Regions from separate parts of the Homo sapiens genome. Here region 2 is linked to region 1. The links come from fine-mapping of genetic effects on gene expression. A gene starts in region 1. The other region holds a variant in brackets. All regions are shown on one strand. Distances are from middle to middle. Region 1 holds the start of CDK18 (cyclin dependent kinase 18). Region 2 overlaps CDK18 (cyclin dependent kinase 18).

Evidence for each region.
Region 2: its variant is fine-mapped to the expression of CDK18 in nucleus accumbens (GTEx, PIP above 0.99).

What each region holds. Positions count from the first base shown.
Region 1 is chr1:205,500,644-205,509,784 of GRCh38, reverse strand. CDK18 (cyclin dependent kinase 18) reads right to left here and starts at 5,116. Exons shown (of 16, transcript NM_212502.3): 1 at 4,989-5,116. RefSeq lists an enhancer at 2,539-3,192.
Region 2 is chr1:205,529,787-205,538,927 of GRCh38, reverse strand. CDK18 (cyclin dependent kinase 18) reads right to left here. Exons shown (of 16, transcript NM_212502.3): 14 at 8,579-8,669; 15 at 8,223-8,300; 16 at 6,138-7,584. The coding sequence ends at 7,550. Among named protein-coding and RNA genes, the nearest start is that of CDK18, 30 kb to the right of the region's middle. RefSeq lists an enhancer at 1,990-2,491. The variant GGCA/A (reference allele first, on the strand shown) is at 5,286.

The DNA.
Region 1 (9,141 bases):
GAATAGAGTTCTCTTCCCAATTTGGGGGCTGATCCCTGATGTTTGCAGGGACCCTGATTTCAGAAAAAAATATCAAGTGGGGCCAAAGGCACTGAGAACTACCAAATGTAGCCCATTAACTCTGCCACCACCCCTTGATAATGACATCAGGTAAAGCAAAGAGCTACTAGGTGGACATTATCTCACTGGAGTCCTCGCAATCACATGAGATAATAGTATTATCCTCCTATTTTATAAATGAGGAAACTGAAACCTGGGTGAGCAAATTACTTAACCTAAGGCAACCAGTTACTGAGTGGAAGAGGCAGAATCTGAACTGACCCCAAAGTCCATAAATTGCCTCCACCCATGGTGGACAGGAGACATACACTCAACATATAAATAATGATGAGTGCACCAGCCAGCCATTATTGGGTCATCTTGTCTATCCCGACTCCACCATTTCTAGGGAAGACTTTTATTTAATGGTGGGGGTAGGGAGGCTCAGAGGGTGGGACCATTATCAAGAGCTCCAGGAAAGAGGATCTCATCATAGTCCTTTCAAAAGTTCTGGCCCATGTCTCCCAGAGCAAGGTGTCCAGTCTCTTCAGGGTTACTCATGCTGTCAGGGAGCTTTGCTTCAAGACCCGTTTTTTGTTTTGTTTTGTTTTGTTTCTCGCCCAGGCTGGAGTGCAGTGGTGCGACCTCGGCTCACTGCAACCTCCACCTCCTGGGTTCAAGCGATCCTCCTACCTCAGCCTCCCGAGTAGCTGGGATTACAGGCACACGCCACCATGCCTAGCTAATTTTTGTATTTTTAGGAGAAACAGGGTTTCATCATGTTGGCCAGGCTGGTCTCAAACTCCTGGCCTCAAGTGATCCACCCGCCTTGGCCTTCCAAAGTGCTGGGATTACAGGCATGAGCCACCACACCCGGCCTAAGACCCTTTTCAATTTTTTTTTTGACAAGTTCTTGTTCTGTTGCCCAGGCTGGAGTGCAGTGATGCAATCATGGATCACTGCAGCCTCAACCTCCTAGGCTCAAGCGATCCTCCCCTCTCAGCCTCCCGAGTAGCTGGGACTACAGGCGCGTGCCACCACACCTGGCTAATTTTTGTATTTTTTTAGAGATGGGGTCTTGCCATGTTGCCCAGTCTGGTTTCGACCTCCTGGGCTCAAGCAATCCGCCCACCTCCCTTTTCAGTTTAAAACCAAACCTCACACTTGCCTCACTACCCCTCCTCCTCTGCAGATGTAGCTGTGGAGATTCTAGGAGCAGATGGGCTCTCTTTCAGACAGGAGGTCTGGCGGAGATGCGCCCACGGCTTTTCCTCTTCCAGACTTGCTGCTGAACCACTGGCCAGCTCCAGCCAGGCCCAGCTACCAGCTCTGTAGTGATCCTGGATCCCAGACCCTTGGCCTGAGCTGTTGTGAGCCCAGCCTGTGTGTGCATGTGCATGCAGCTGTGTGTGTGTAAGCAGCTGTGGGAGCCAGGACAAGATTAACCTTGGTCTGCTCCCACCCCCTGGATGTGGGAAAGTGCCCACTCAGCAGGGAATGCCTGGAGGGCAAAGGTGAAAAGTCCAGGGAAGGGGACGTAAGGGGTTATGGTGGGACACAGAGCCGAGGAAGAGAAATGTGACTTATTGCCAAAGGTGGGCTAATCAGGTGGGCCTGGAACCAGGCCAGCCACTCACCCTGAACAACAGAGCAGAACAGGGACTGCAATTAATTAAGTACCAGGGGAGGGTCCTCCTACCTCAGGGAAAGAAGGCGCTGCCAGAGGGCCCTCAGAGCAAGAGACTGCTGCCTCTCCAGCTCCCAGTGCCTGCCTCATTCATAACTGCCAGAAGGTAGGGCCCCCACAGCACAGATTCCTGGCCCCTCCTGGAAGATTTCCATCCAACCCATTCCCCTACCACCACCACCATTCTCTTACACAGAGCCCTCCTCCCTAACCTGGAAGAGCAGTAAAGATTCTGTCTAACTAAGGGCTTGGCCTGATGGGGCTGGGAAAATCTACCTTGGTCTCTAGACCAGCCCTGGTGCAATCACCAGGAAATTCCCTTTCCAAACAAGCACCACCAACCACTATAGCTACCAGTTATTTAGTCTCTGCTACATGCCAGGCACTGTGCATTATTTTTTTTTTTTTTTTTTTTTTTTTTTTTTGAGACGGAGTCTCGCTCTGTCGCCCAGGCTGGAGTACAGCGGTGCAATCTCGGCTCACTACAACCTCCGCCTCCCGGGTTCACGCCATTCTCCTGCCTCAGCCTCCCGAGTAGCTACAGGCACCTGCCACCACGCCTGACTAATTTTGTGCTTTTTTTTTTTTTTCAGTAGAGATGGGGTTTCACCATGTTAGCCAGGATGGTCTCGATCTCCTGACCTCGTGATCCGTCCACCTCGGCCTCCCAAAGTGCTGGGATTACAGGCGTGAGCCACCGCACCCAGCCTAAATCTTATAACAGCCCTCTATTATGATCCTCATTTTACAGATGAGGGAACGGATGCTGGGAGAAATTCACGAGTGTGCTAGTGAGGGGAAGGTCACATAGCTACTATATGCTGGAGCTGGATTCCACCAAGGCCAGAAGTTTGCCCTCCCCTTTAGTTCTCAAGCTCAGTTAGAGAAGAACAGAAGGAATCAGAGGACAGGTAGATGGAGATGCTGGACAAAAGTCCCAACAGGGTGATCCCAGAAAGTAGAGGCTTGGTTAGGGTAGGAACCGGGAAGAGTCAAGCCGGGCTCTGCCCTACAGTGTAGGACGCATTCCCGAGTGCGGGACGGCCCAAGTAGGCAGAGGACAGAGTCCGAGTCTGTAGAGGAAGCAAATGCACCCTGAAAGGCAGCTCCATGTCCTCTAGACCTGAGCGGGGGTTTGCAGGGCTGGCAACCTGATCCCACGAGATCTCAGACCAAGAACCTATTTGCTCCTCAGATCTGGTGCCCTCTCTCCTGTGCCCCATGGAGAAGCCTGGCTCTGCCTAGTGCAGGACAGACAGATGGGAGCCTCAATATTTGGAGCATCACCCCCATTCTTTCTTCTCCTGAGGACTGACGCAGACCAGAGAACTCCAGAGTGGGCCGGAACCTCCCCACAATGGGGCAGGGGTTAACAGCAGGGGCTTGGGGTCAGACGGAAGTGGGCTGGATCCCACCTCTGTGTGACCTTGGAAAAGTTGGTCTCTCAGAGACTCAGTTTCTTCACCTGTAAAATGGGGATGATAATAATACCTACTTCATAAAGTTGTGACGCACTGCTTGGCGCACAGTAGATATTCAACAAATGGTGGCCACTAAGGCTTGTCTACTCTGCCTCTGGCACCCCCGATAAGTTTGGGAAGAACTTCTTCTGGCACGCGTGGAGAGCTTCTTCCATTCTCCTGGCAGGGTATGGGGAGAGTCCTGGGGACCCAGTGGGGAGAGTCCTGGGAACCCAATGGTCAGGTACACCCCAGATTAAGGGTGGGGGAGGGGTCAGCCCCACAGCCTCCTCAGCTGCACAAGAGGTGGCTGGGAAAGGGTAACCCGAGATAGCAGCTTTGCTGTGGCAAGGTGACCCTCTCTCTGGAACGCCTTCAGGATGCAAACCCGGACCTGGAGCCAGTGTCGCCCTGTACTCCACCGACCCTCAGCACCCTCAGCACCGTTTTCCCAGGCCCCTCCCAAGGCCAGGCTAAAGGCAGGGGATCTCTGAGGACGTGCCAGTCCACCAGGCGCTCCAGGCATCCTCTCAGGCCCGTGTCCAGGAATGTGCTGCATGCCCATGCCCGGGTGGGGAATGCCACGCGAACATGCCGAAGCTCACTGGGTGCTGACACAGGAGGGGCAAGCCGGTGGTGTTAGTGAGTCACAGGGCCCAGGCTACAGCTGGGGAACTGCCGAGGGCTGGGCTAGGGGTGGGGAAGAAGGGGAGACAGTAGCAGATAGCGCGGAAGAGGTTCCAGGGCCTCTCACTCCCACAGTGTCAATCCTCCCACCCCGACTGCCGGGAGGTGCCCAGAGAGAATGAAGAGAGGCAGGGCTGGTGCCTAGGAGGGTGCTGACCCTGCAGCACAGAAAACCCCTCACTGTTTCTGCAGCCCAACTCCCACCCAGCACAAGGTCTGCAGACACCTTCAGGGAATCCCCGCCCCCCACAGGGCGAAAACAGAGGCCTCCAGTCCAGACCCGATTTTGGATTTCAGATTCCTGATGGTGTCCCTCAACTACAGCAGAATCCTCAAGGCACATCTCCTTAGCCCAACAGGTCACCGCCCACTCCCCCCGGCCCCACCCAGCCTCCTTTCCCTCTGCTGCATTAACCCTCTGTCGCCTGTTGATGAGGGGTGGAGGGGGGCACTGCCCCTTTGGTCTTCCGGGGTGGAAAGAGAGAAGCAGCAGCATTCCCCAGACCCCTGCCTCCCCCAGAACTGGGACCTGCAGGGCTTCACGTGTCCTTCCACGTTCTTCCCAGGGCTCCGGCCTCCCACCCCCTGCCTGCCGCTCTGGAAAGTTCACCAGAGCCCAGGAAGCCCTTCAAGGCAGCGATGTGGCCCCACACTCTCGGGTCCTTTGGTCCCTGGAGACTCCTGACCCTTGCCCTTCCCAGAATGAAGGGAGCTTAGAAAGCGCCTGGTTCCGGACTGGGTGGAAAACTTTGCTTTGTAGGGTTCAGACGGGAGCCCAGGGGCCAAAGTGATCCCAGATGGAGACTCCCTAAGGGGGCGCGGGGTCTGAGATTGCAAAATAACCCTCCCTCTCAAGCACCTGGAACTTACGAGTGGCCTTTCGAGGGCACCCCCCACCCCTCAACACACAACACAGTATCACACAGATCACGCCTCGTGATCTCTGCTCTCCCCTCGCCGCTCCGGTATTTCCCTCCAACCTCTCGCCTCAGGGCAAAAGCAAAACTGCGCCTTTAAGAGCCGTTCCGCTTACCTTTGCTCCTTATACCCGGCGCCGCGGTGCCCGCTCCTCCGACCTCCCCCTTCCTCCCAGGCGCACCGCCCGCGGGACTCACAGCGCGTGTCCTGGGGGCCGCGGTGCGCCCGCTCCCTCCCGGGCACGGGGCAGCTTCCCCTGCTCCGGAAAGGTGAGCAGTTCCCCAGAGAAGCTGCAACCTGAGCTGGCCGAGGAGGAGGTAGAAGGGGAGGGGAAGGGAGGGAGTGGAGGAAGGTGGGGAAGAGGAGGGAGGAGGAGGAGGAGGAGGAGGAGGAAGGAAAATGCCCGGCCCCCGCCAGAGTTTTTCACATGTACAAGTTGACTCCGCCCCCGGCCCTCCCGCCCTGCCCACAGCCGCTACCAATCCCCAGGGCTCCCTCTGCCCGGGTGCCCACCCCTTTCTCCCACTCTGGGAACCAGGGTCCAAGTGCCTCTTCCTGTTTCGTTTCTAAAACCGGCCCTGAGAGCCTTGGCTAGGGGATGAGGCCTTCTGGACTGGATCACCCCAGGACACCAAGGCGCCAGGGGTACACTGAGAGTGCCTGCCTGTCTCTAAAAGCGGTGCTCCTACCTCTCCTAGGTACCTCCCTGTACCTGGCGCCCTAGGAACGAATGTGCATGGACAGATTTTGGTGGTCATTTTCTTGACAATAGTAGCCCTCGGGCTCCCCTTCTACCCTATCCAGTGGGACTTGTCACTTACCTTTCCGGACAAAGTTCCCACCTCTCCAGGACCTGAATGAAGCCCTTGTTACCAGCCATCATTCACATTTCCCTCCCCGAAGGATAATTCAACTTGTCCTTTTGGAATTAAACTCCACAGGATATTTGAGAATCATCCAAGAAGGGTTACAGAATGGCTAGTTCAGCTAGTGGCACTCTCATTTTACAGAAGGGGAAACTGAGGCCCAGCAAAGCAATTGAACTGGCCTAAAGTGCCACAAGAGTTCATGGCGAGCCATGATTAGAACTCAGGCCAATGGCCATTGCACCCACATCATCTGACTTCAAGGATCAAAAAAAAAAACAAAACAAAAATCTGGGGATGGGGGTGAAGGGCACAGTGCCCCACCGCCAGGCCCCTCTCATCTCTGCTTCCTCCTGAGGGCTGTGAGGAGAGGAGGTGTGCCTTGGCTCTATGGCACCTCATCAAGGCAGTCTGTGTCCCCTGCCCTACCAGAGGGCTTGGCTGCTGCAGTCTGGGGTCTCCCACAGGGAAAGTCTCCTTAGGAGGGGGTGCTCCACAGTGTACATGTGCTTCTACCTGAACCCTTTCCCTGGGGACTGTGAGTTGTTGAGAATAGAACAGTTTCCTTCTGGAAGACATGGGCCTGAGGTCCCACTGTCAGCTGGAGACAGGAGAATGAAGGAAGACACTGGGCCCATGCATGAAAGTGACCTGTGGGTAGTTGACATCTCACAGAGGGCCTCCCAACTCTTTTTTTTTTTTTTACCTCGCTTTCTCTGCCAAGGCATGCAGATTTCCTGGGCACAGCACTTCCTAAAAATGAAACTGCCAAGTGTTGTCGGGGTGCATGGATCCAGAGCCTTTAGGTGTGCAGCAACCTCCTGGCTCTGTAGTCCAGTGGATGGTGAGAAGCCTGGGGAGCAGGAGGCCATAAAGAGGTTTGGAAGGGGCAGGGAGGGAAAGGGAGAAGGACTATGGCCAAGGAACTGTTTACTGGCGGATTAGAGAGAGTGGGGCCAAAGGGTAGAATTTCAAGGAACTAGGGGGGTGAAGTCAAGAGGTCTCCACAAACACTTTCTCAACATCTCTTATGTGCCAAATGATAGCCAGGGCTCTGGGCACATAAGATGAGTATAACCCAGTCCCTGCCTTCAAGAAGCTCTTGGTGTAATGCGGCAGGGAAGCAAACAGTTAGGATGCTATAGGAGGAGGCTTAGTGTTACGGATGCCTGGGAGGAGCTATTCTGCTTGAGGTGAGGGTTACAGGATGAGGGGACAAGAGAGAGGAGGAAGGATTTTCCCTGTTTTTTCCAGGAGGGGTAATCCCTTGTGCAGAGTGCAGGGGTGACAGAATATGGACCCACAGTTCCATGAGGTCAGAACTTAAAGTCTGGGGTGGAGGTGACACTGTAGAGGCAGGCAGGTGCTGGGTCCTGAAGACCCCCAACGTGGAGGCTGATCCTAGTGGAAAATGAGAATGAGCTTAGACCACACAGCGGCAGCAGGGAGGAGAGGAGGGAACTGATTTGAGAGATAGGTAGGAGACAGGGTCATGGAGCCTTGTGACTATTGGATTCTAGAAGATAAGGGAGCCAACAGTGTCAAGATTAGAAGCACTGATGTGATAGGCTGAGTGGGACCTTGGAGCTTCTTAAGTGAGCCTTGATTCCCAGCACCTCCTTAGATTGCTCTGTGAACTTGGGCAAGCGAACTAAGCTTTCTGAGGCCATCTGTAGAACAAAGTTGCTAAAATCAATCTTGTATGGTTGTTGTACATATTAGGGTAATGTATGCTAAGGGCCTGGCATAGGACTTGGCTCATAATGGAGAACTCAATAGATAGTAAATATAATTACCATCATTCATGCATTCAACAAACATTTATTGAACACCTGCTATGTGACAAGGACTATACTGGATCCTTGCATTGGATAGATGATTTTAAGTCTCAGTTCCTATTCTCATGTAGTTCACTGTTCAGGTGGAGAAAGATATGCAGAGGCAGTCACCTACCAAGGCAATATGGGCTGAGCAGAGGAAGAAGCCCTTAACTCTGCCCAAGAGAATTTGGGACAGCTCCACAGAGGAGAGATGACAGCTGAAATGATGTAGGGCCAGCCACCTGCTCAGAGCCTGTCACATCACCCCCTGCCCCACCACCACCACATGGGATTGCTTCAGAATCTCTGAAAGCTTCAGTTTTGAAGCATCGTCTTGGTTCTCAGGGTTGAAGGAAGAGGATGAACTGCAGGTGGGCATCTATATGGAGCCCAGAGAATGGCACAACAAGCTTTGGCCACCCCAGGAAAGGGCAAGTGCAGATGGGAGGTGGGAGGGGGGAACCAGATAAGAGTGACCCTGGGCAGGGCTTACTAGCTGGATAGGGAGTCCATGATACCCAGTCATACACATCAGTGGCCTGTGTATGTGTGCTCTTTGGGTCAGCCTAATTTTTCTGCTTCTCATCTGTACCATTTCAAAAATTCCCTCTGAACCCCTTGGTGTCCCCTGCCCTCCGATGCCAACTTTCTTTCTGTGCATCTTGCAATAAGCCAAACACAGTAGAAGCAGCACTACCTAGGACTTCCACTAAGGAGGGGCTCCTTCCCTGCTGCCTTACCAAGCAATACTTTGAGCTTTAAAGCCATGTAAACTGTGTGACCTTGGGCAGTTACTGACATATCTGACTTCCTTTCCTGTCCATAACATGGAGATGGTAATAGTCCCTCTCTCATGGGGCTGTTGTGAGGTTTCAATAGGATGTAAACTTGGCACCCAATCAATGCTGTTTCTCTTTTCTGCAGCCCATTAACTCCCTCCTTGCAGAGGGACAGACAACAGACCCTCAGCTGGGGGTTTCCCTGGCACCCCAGCCCCTGGGGCCCATCCCCTGTGGGTCCTGCAGCCCCCTTCCCCTCTGCTAGTCTAATGGATCTGTGGCATCCCCGGGAGGCCCTGGTCACCCTAGCCATGTAGCAGTGTAATGCTGGCAGGCCTGAGCAGCATGACAATGGTGGCCCCAGCAGCAGCTCAGCCCACTGCCCACTCTGCTCCTGTCTCCTCCTCGCTGCCAGTGACATGCCACTGCTCTGCAGATAGGACAGGCGTCCCTGGGTGCCTGAGGGCTGAGCAGGGAAGCTGGAAACAGCTCTCCCTCGCAGACTGTGTGGGCAGTGCATTTGAATAGCATCTGAAAAACCAAAGTTCAAGCCCGCCCCACTTTCCCCTGGGAGGCACAGCATCCAGACAGGGAGAGTTCAGCCAACAGAGAATCTCTTTTCTGCACATTGTCAGGGGCTCCCTTCCCCTCTGGCCCTATATCCGAGCAGGCACAGTCTCTGAAAGCACTGCAGGGACATTTGGGAGGCCGGAGACTTGACTCCGCCCCTAAGGTGCAGAAATCACTTTGTTTCTCTGGGCCTCTGTTTTCCTCTATAGCAAAAGGGGAATAGTGTGAATACCTATCTTTCAGGATGGGAGAACTAAATGCAAAGGTGACTGTGAAAGTGCTTTGCACACTGTAGAACGACCTGCATGTGTATGA
Region 2 (9,141 bases), 29 kb before region 1:
AAGAAAAAAAAGTCCCAGATTAGTTCATTCCCACACCCCAGAATCAGTCTCAGGTCCTGAAAAGCCAAGTCTGGCCTCAAAGCCAGTGACAGGCCTGAGAGGATACCCCTGGCATCCTGGAATCCAAGGAGAAGGGTGTTTGCAAGCCCAGGATCATGCTTTGCCACATTCCTCTGGCTTCTCTGAGGAAGGTATCTCATCTGCCAGTTACACCTTGCTACTCCGCACAGCAAAAAAGAAAGATCCAAGGAATAGGGTCAGGCCAGGTGCAGATCTGGCTGCTGGCTCCTCAGGAACCTGGCAAGACATACCAGAGGCAGTGATGCCCCTGGAATTCCCAAGTGGTTTCCCAGTCTGGGGGACAAAGCACTTACTACCTCAAGAGGCAGCGGATCCACTTTGAGTGACGCCTGACCCAGTGCCTTTTATCATAAATTCTCTTTCCATGTTTACTTCCCCAGCTACGTTTAAAGCTTCCGTGGAGAAAAAACTCTGGGCTGAGGTCATTTTAAAAGTCTTGCAAAATCTTTTAAGTAGGATGTTCTTAATACATTCTTGCTGATTGAGATCTTATCAAGAGTGAAGAATGCAAGAAATAAAAGCATATGATCTTCCACTTTACTTCCAGGAGGGAGGAAGCTGGAATTCCTGCTTGTGGAGAAGTGGGTGGGAGTGTGCAGAGTGAGGATGTGAAGCTCACTCACCTAGCACTCTGGGTCAGGCCCCTCCTGAATATTCATTCTCTTTTTGTCTTTTTTTTTTTTTTTTTTTTTTTGAGACAGGGTCTCACTCTGTCACCCAGGCTGGAGTGCAGTGGCACGATCTCAGCTCACTGCATCCTCCACCTCCTGGGTTCAAACAATTCTCCTGTCTCAGCCTCCCAAGTAGCTGGGATTACAGGGGTCCACCACCACGCCCGGCTAATTTTTGTATTTTTAATAGAGATGGGGCTTCACCATGTTGGCCAGGCTGGTCTCGAACTCCTGGCCTCAAGTGATTCACCCGCCTCGGCCTCCAAAAGGGCTGGGATTACAGGCATGAGACACTGCGCCCGGCCTGAATATTCATTCTTAAATCCTCACAACCTTGTGAAATAGGTGTTATCACTATCTCCGTTTTACAGAGAGGGAAACTGAGGCACAGAGCAGTTAAGGAACATTCCCAAGGTGACACAGCTTGCAAGCCGTAGAGCTGGGATTTGAATCCAAGTCTGTGATTTTGGAGCCTGTGTGTTATTTCCCTGGTTGTTCAAGATTCCTTCTTCCCAGGAACCTAGGACTTAGCCAATCTCTCCTCCAGGGAAAACATGAGGACATTAAAACATTTTATTGTTCTTGAAAAAAAAAAAAACCTTAGGAAATTTTAATAGAATGACTAATGGACAACTGTCTTTCCCCCAAGTAGCTGAGACCTTAAGAAGCTGAGAGGAAGAAAAGATTATCCTAGCCGCCTCTGAGATGCTGAGCTCCTGGGAGTGGGGTCTAAGTCAGGGTCAAGTTTGTATCCTGGGTACTGAAAACAGAGCCTGGCACAGAGTCTGGAACCATCTGATGGATAATGAGTAAATTAGGGAGGGAGGAGCTCTGGAGGAGACAGGAAGATGAGGAACTGGGCTAGAAGTTTCTAGCCCAGAAAGGGGCAAGCAGGAGTGCTGACCACATGCAGGAGGGCAGCGGGGATCCTCCCTGCCACGCCCTGTCCATGCTTCAGCTCTCCATGTTTGCGTCACATCACCAGGAAGGGCCCAGGGATGCAGGAGCAAGGGTTGATGCTTGGCATTGAGAACACATCTCAGGGACTGGAGGCTTGGGTTGATTCAAGGGAGAGGCTGCAAAATCTCCTTCCTTAGACAAGAGGCTGGGTCAAATTATTGATCTCTGGGTTTCAGTATTACTCAGGGCCGCCCACTGAGTAATACCTAGTGCCCCCAAGGGGCACTGAGAGAAGTAAAAAGAAGCAGGAAGAAGGAAGAGGAGAAAACAAGGGAGGAAGCGGGAGTGGCCACGTGGCACCTGCAATCTCATCAGAGCTGCCCTTGGCCCCACCCGTCCTGTCTAGGAGAATTGGCACACACTCCCTGGAGTCTGGGCACTGACCATCAGCAATGATGCCAGCCACCGGGCCTCCACAGCTAGGGCGGGAGCAGGGCCCTGGTGCCCAATGATGCTTTTAGTTGGCAGATGGTGGGAGGTTCTGAGGGTCCGGAAGAGGGGCTGAGTCATCACTCAGGGGGCACTTGGTGGGGTGGGGGATAGTGACTTTTGCCCAACCCCCAGGTGTCAACTGGCTGCCTGTCAGACAATGCTTTTAGGTGACCAGAAGGCAAGGATTTCCCAGTCCCTGGAAACCAGATGCCCATCCTCCATGCAAACAAGTGAGGTGGAGTGTCCGTGCCAGTGCCCACACCTGCCCGGAGGCAGCTGCTCAGGTAGGCTGACCTGGGTTGTAATTGACAGTCCACCTTACTCCCTGTGTGGCCATGCAGGTCACCTAACCCTAGAGCCTCTGTGGCCCTCCCTGGGATTAGGATGACAGTCCCTCTCGCAGCAACACAGGAGAGCAGGTGCTTCCCTTCTCCCTTCCCACCACACCTGCTGCTGCTCTACCACCACCTGGGGGATCCTTCCTCTCCCTGCCCCATCACCCTCCTTATAGGGGCTGACATCTCCTATTTGACCCTCTGAGCCTTTAAAAACAGAGGCCAGTGGCTTCCCATCTCAGAATAAAATCCAGAACCCGTACCACAGCCCGCAAGACCCCGCACGAGTGAGCGGTTCTCAACCCTGGATACATGTTAGGGTCATCTGAATCAATCTGAGCTGGGGCCGGATGGCAGTGGATCTTAAGCACTTCCCAGGTGGATCTAATGGGCAGAGCCACTGCCCCACATGATACATCCCTCCTGCCATGCTGCCTGGCTCACTGTGCCCTGGCCTCACTGCCTCTCACTCATTCTCAAGTACGTTCACCTCAGGGCCTTTGTTGGAATACTCTGTCCCTGGCTGTCCACCTGGCCCCCTTACACAACATAGCTCACTTTTTTTTTTTTTTTTTTTTTTTTTGGTACAGGGTCTCACTCCATTGCCCAGGCTGGATGGTAGTGGCATGATCACTGCTCACTGCGGCTCGACCTGGGTTCAAGTGATCCTCCTACCTCAGCCTCCTGAGTAGCTGAGACTACAGGCATGAGCCGTCACACCCAGCTAATTTTTTTTTAAATAGAGACGGGGTCTCGCTATGTTGCCCAGGCTGATCTCAAACCCTTGGGCTCAAGCGATCTGCCTGCCTTGGCATCCCAAAGTGCCAGAATTACAGGTGTGAGCCACCACGCCCAGCCCATAGCTCATTTTTGATGGAGAGGTCCCTCCCTGACCAGGCAGTTCCCCTCCCTATGCCATCACATTCTTCCCCCTCAAACCTGCCCCTGCCTTATTTTGTCTCATCACACTTATGACCCCTTGATATGCCTGTTGGTTTGGATAACGTCTTATACCCCCCACTGGAACATAAGCTCTATGAGAGTAGGGCTTGGCCATCTTGTTCACGGCTGTATCCTCAGTGCCTAGCACAGCACCGGGTGCACAGTGGGTTCTTGAGAAAACCTGTTGTAATCAAGGCCATCTCTGCCGGCAGGTCTGAGCTTCTGGAAGGTAGGGGTGGAATGTCATGCATCTTGGTGTCCCTGGCATCTAGCACAGGGCCAGGCATGGAGGAGGCTGTGGCTAATTCATGGTGCTGATGATTTGCTCTGGAGATAGAGGGGCTCACTGGGGTGCTGTAGAGTGTCACGGCCAAAAGCAAGGGTCTGAGCAGTGATAGAGGTGGGGAGATGGCCCAAAGGAGGCTGGGATGCTTCAAGAAGGGAGGAAAGGAGCAGGCCTGCAACAGTGTCTGACACTTGGCTGACCCAGGGGGCCTAGCAGGGTAGAGGAGTGGTGGCCTATTAGACATCAGCCCTGACCACTGGACCCAGAGAGTAGGGGCAGGGTGAATGGGAGCCCACAGGAGGGTGGGGCAGGGGAGAGCGAGCTCCAGGTCCCACCGGGGTGCAAGATGATGTGGGCAGTGCCAAGCACAGGAGCTGATATCACCCCCACCCTGTAGAGTTCAGCAAATAGGACATTTTGTCTGAAGCTGCAGGGCTGCTACATGCCTCAAATGCCCCTGCCAAGTGGCCATGGTGGAGGGGACGGCATCTGCACCCTGGATATTCCTGACCTGTCCCAGAAGCAGGCAGGTGACAAGTGAGGCCTGAGGGGGAATGACTTGTAAAAGGCTGCTTTGGGCCGGGGATTCCAGCAGAATGGGGCAGGCTCCTGTTTTTGAGAGTCACCGGCATAAGGAAATGATTGCAGGGGTGCCCAGGAAACCGAGGGCTCCAGGACACTGGGTTGGGTTGTAGCTCAGCCTGGTCCCTGGGAGCCCAGTGGCAGCTCATGGCCAAAATCACTCAGCCCCTCTTCACACCCGAACCCAGCTTCCTTCTCCGGAGCCATCACTTTTTGAGCACCAATCATATCCAAGGCCTGGTGTAGGCCTGTCCAGCTGAGTTCCACACCCCCAGGCTGGCCGGCACTCCCAGCCCTGGCAGCTTTCTAGGGCAGAAGCTCAGCATGCCTGATGTCAGAAGCCCCTAGGTGTGTGCCTCCTCAGCAGGGCCACAGCTGCAGCAGCAAGAACGGCTGCCCCCAGCGACTCTGGGCCACCTCTGCCTGCCACAAGAGTTGCCTTGCAAAGTGCTCCTCAAGGCAGCATCTGCCCATATCCTTCCTTGTGTGTTTTCCTCCCTCCAGGGCCTCTGCACTATCTCCACCTCACCCTCCCCACGCCTCCCACTCCTTAAAGACCACAGGGCTGGGGGGCAGACACCTGGGATTCTAATTTGGTATGTGACCCCAGGCTACCCCTGGGAGGCTCCTGTCCTCATCTGCAAAGTGGGGAGAAAGGGGGGTTTCTATGAGGATTCAGTGAGACAATGCCTGGGCACAGGGCTGCCTGGCACCCAGCAGGGAACTTAATAAATGTCTGGTTTCCAATTCCCACCAATGCATTTCCCAGCCCTTCTCCTCCCCTCAAGCACTAATTGTCTGAGTTACGACCCTACTTTGGTGTCTGGCTGCCTACAAGCAAAGTGAGGAGGTCTCCTTCGGTAGAACTGGTGCTGAGCTGAGAATGGAGCCCTGGCCCGCCCCTTACTTCCAGAGCCTTGGGAGACATCATCAACCTCAGCATCAGCTTCCTCCTCTGGAAAGCAGCCACCCTCTTAAGTAACTGCAAACCATGCC[GGCA/A]AACTGCAAAGTGCTTAAGGCCAGGCATGAGGACAGGTCAGGAGGCAGGGTTTCGGGCCTGGCATTCTCAGAGTGGTCTCGGGAAGAACAAACCTGGACACCGAACTGGACAACAGCAGGACTCTGAGCACTTTGGGAGCTGTGTATGATGTGTTGCGGGGGTGGGTTGTGTCCAGATCAAAGGTGGGGAGGCGGTCTAGGCAGCAGCAGGAGGTGTATTCGAGGTCTGCAGCAATTCTTGCAGAGCCTGAATTACAGTGAGGCCCACACCCTCGTCCTGCTGCCCTGGCCTTGGCCATCTCCCATGTCAACCTCATCTTGATCTTGCCTACCTCCCTCCCCAGAAGCCAGGGGGCCATTTGGCATCAGGAACACAGGGATTAGCTGCACGGCCAGACCCCAGACCCCCGCCCAGGGGTCCCTCTTTGCTCTCCTGGCCAGCCCCACCCCACAGGCACCAACTTGGGCCAATGCCAGGCCACAGGTCAGACTCCCAGGCCTGGGACTCCTCTGCCCACCCACAACAACCACTGATGCTCCTCAGCAAGAGCCAACTTCTGGCTCTGAACGCAGCAGCACCCAGGATACAGCAAGGTGAATGCTAGGCACTCGTCCCACAGCCTGGGGTGTAGGGGAGGTCAGAGATACACACAAATCAAACTCTCTCCTCACTATATATATATATATATATATATATATATACACACACACACACACACACACACACACACACACATACACACAAGCACACCCCACCCACACTCATTAGGCCTGGAGGGGGGACTTCAGTTCTCCATCTTTGGCATCAATCTATCAAAGTCAGCTTTTCTGTACGAGACTGCTCGCTCCTTTCTGTACATGAATTAAATATATTATCTGTCTCTGCACTGAGTCACACGACGTTCACAGTACCGTGGGGAGGAGTGGAGGGTGGGGGCCTGAGGTGGGCAGGGCAGGGGGCCTGGGTAGAAAGGCGAGGCTGGCCTCCCCTTGGCCTGTGCCATTCAGGATCAGCCCAGTGTTGAGGAGACCTGGGGGATACAGAGGGGAGCCTTCTTCAGGGGCCCCGGCCACCCAGGCTTCCAGCCCCCGGAGGCAAGCCTCTCAGCATCAGAGCCTGCTCCTGTTCCACGTTCCTCTCCCTCAGATGGTGGCATCTACACCTCTCCCTGTCGTGGCCGCCCTCTGGGGTGGCAGGGGCTGGGGGAAGCTGGTATTGGGATCAGGTGGACAGAGCCACAAGGGCTGGGAAGGAAGGATGGGGAGGCTGTGCGAGCCTTCGGGAGCTGAGGTCAGCCTGGCACCAGTGTCAGGGTGACTCTGCATATCTGGGTGCCGTCCCCAGGACCCTGACCAGGCCTGGCTAATCAGAGCCCTGGGATGATAAGGTAAGCAGGAGCCACCTCGGGAAGGGGTGGACAGGCAGGAGCCGGTCACAGCTCCAAGGGCAGTGAGTACGGTACCACCTGCCAATTTAAGGCAACTCCATTCAGACTGATGAGCTGGGCGGGGGCTGGCTGAGGTGGCAGGCGTGCAACTGGCGGTCCCAGGCCACCTCTGGACACAGCTGGGCATCCAAGCATGCCAGCAAAGCGTATGCCGGCACTGCTCAGCCATGGTTCAAGCCAGAGGGTGTCGGGGAATGAGGGTAGGGTAGGGCTGATGGAAAGAGTGGGGACTACTATTCCTTCTGTTGCTGTGGGACACCTGCCAGGTGGGGTAGGCTTTGGCACACATGTGGGTACCTAGGATTCCAGGGTCCCAGAGAACATGCCATGTCTCTTCTTGCTCTCAGAGGGGAAAAAGATGAAACGTGTGTGGGCTCCAAGGGGCCAGAAAGGGGGACTACCAAACTGGCACTAGGCAGGTCCTGGGGGAGGAGGGTAGAGCCTGTATCCAGGGCAGAGTGCCCATCCTGGCGCCTTGATTCTGTCATCCGTGTGCATCCCACGCAGGTGCCCAAACACCAGGGTGGGAGAGGGTACGAGGACCGCCCCCCCCTCATGTCCTCTCAGGGAAGCAGCTTATGCCAGCCCCAACGTGGGTAAAGGAGGGGTTGGTATGCAGGTGAGGGCTACTGGGGAGGCACACGGGAAGCACAAAGAAGAAACAGCCGTGGCCAGAAGGGCTGCCAAGCGGTCTTCCAGGCTGGCTGTCAGCCCTCGTTCTTCAGTCCTCCGAGGGCCACACAGGCTCCATCCTACCCGAATTTGTGCTCCATGTGATCTCTTGTCCCTTGGCCACAGCAAGGTGGGCGTGGCTCAGAAGATGCTCTGCCGCCTGTTCTTCCCTCGTCCTGGAGAATGGAGAAGAGGTGGGGCTGCAGGGAGGAGGCTGGGCTGACGGGTACCCCAGGTCAGCAGGGACAGTCGCTGTCCCCCAGAGCTGCTCTGACAGAGCAAGCAAGGGCATGCAAACAGGAGCCGGTCTGACCTGGTGTCAAATCCCATCTCTGCTACTTACTAGCTGCATGAACTTGTGACTTAACCTCCCAGAGCCTCAGTTTCATTGACTATGAAATGGGGAATATTAATAGTACTAGCTTCAAGGGGTATTTTAAGGATTAAAGAAGACGATGCATGGAAAGCATTTGTCAATGTCCAAGGCCATTGACTGTTCTAGGAACAAAGTACCGTTCTCCCAGGATGGAATCTGATTAGAGAGCTCAGGGTTTGCAGAGAGAATGCACCAGAGACAGCATGCCTCTTTGCCAGGGCTACTGTCAAATGCAATGTCCTGTCTGGGGTGGAGGGTTGAGGAGGGAAGAGCTGGACGAGGAAGTCTAGGCAGGAGAAACCAACCCCTTCTCTGCTCCCCAAAGAGTCCAAAGGGAAGCCAGTGGTGGGGGGACCATGGGAGTCCCCACTGGGGAGGGGTCGCCTGCTCTGGCTTCCACTAACAAGGGGAGGGGTCCAGGAGAGCACAAGCCCCTACCTGGCTGCTGGAAGGCCAAGCCTCGGTAGCCTGGGTCCTTCTGGAGCTGGATCTCCTTCAGGGAGAAGATGGAGGCAGCTGGGGGAGAGAAGTGCATAGTCTGGAGAGGGCTGCGTGGAGCTGGCCTCCAGTAAGGACTGGCCCAGAAGGACCAACTGAGCCCTCGAGGCAGCGTCTCATTTCCACTGTTTGCCCCCTCAATTTGGAATGAGAACCCCAGCAGGGGAGGCAAGGTGCCCGGGGCTGCTCTGCTGGGGCTGGGGCCTCTGGCCTCTTTGTTCTGGTTCTTCTGCCCACACTCACCAACCCCTTTCCTTGGTTCTGGGTGGCCCTGCTCCCGGACCCCCAGTACTCACTGTCTTCAAGCTGGTGCACACGCTCTCCCAGAGACCGGAAGTAGGAGTGACTCAGGGCAGCCTCTGCTGACATGCGACTCTTGGATTCATACTGAAAGGCACAGGGTGGGGCTATTGGGCCCGGCTGGGGGGCTGCAAACCCTCTGGGCAGCAGGACTCCAGTGCTGGTTAGAGCACCAAGGTGGGTGAGGCTTGAGGCTAACAGGAGAAGCCCCAGGTCAGCCTCCAGCCCCTACCACAAACCCAACCTCAGGCCATCTCAAGACTCAGGGGAAGGCTCCTCGGTCTCCAGCCACCAGGAAAAACCAGAAATGAAACTTCAGGAGAGTGACCTTCTCTTGGGATAGAAATACAGATGCAAACCAACCATGATCAGATGGAGAACATCCGTAACAGGAAGCGTAGTGCCGATAACAACCCTTCATCGTGTGCCTTACAAGACAGGCACCACACTAAGTGTGTCCCGTCATCTCAATGTATCCTCACGGCCATCTTATAAAATAGGTATTAATCCCACTTTGCAGCTGAGGAAACTGAGGCATGGAGGAGCTCTGTAACTTGCC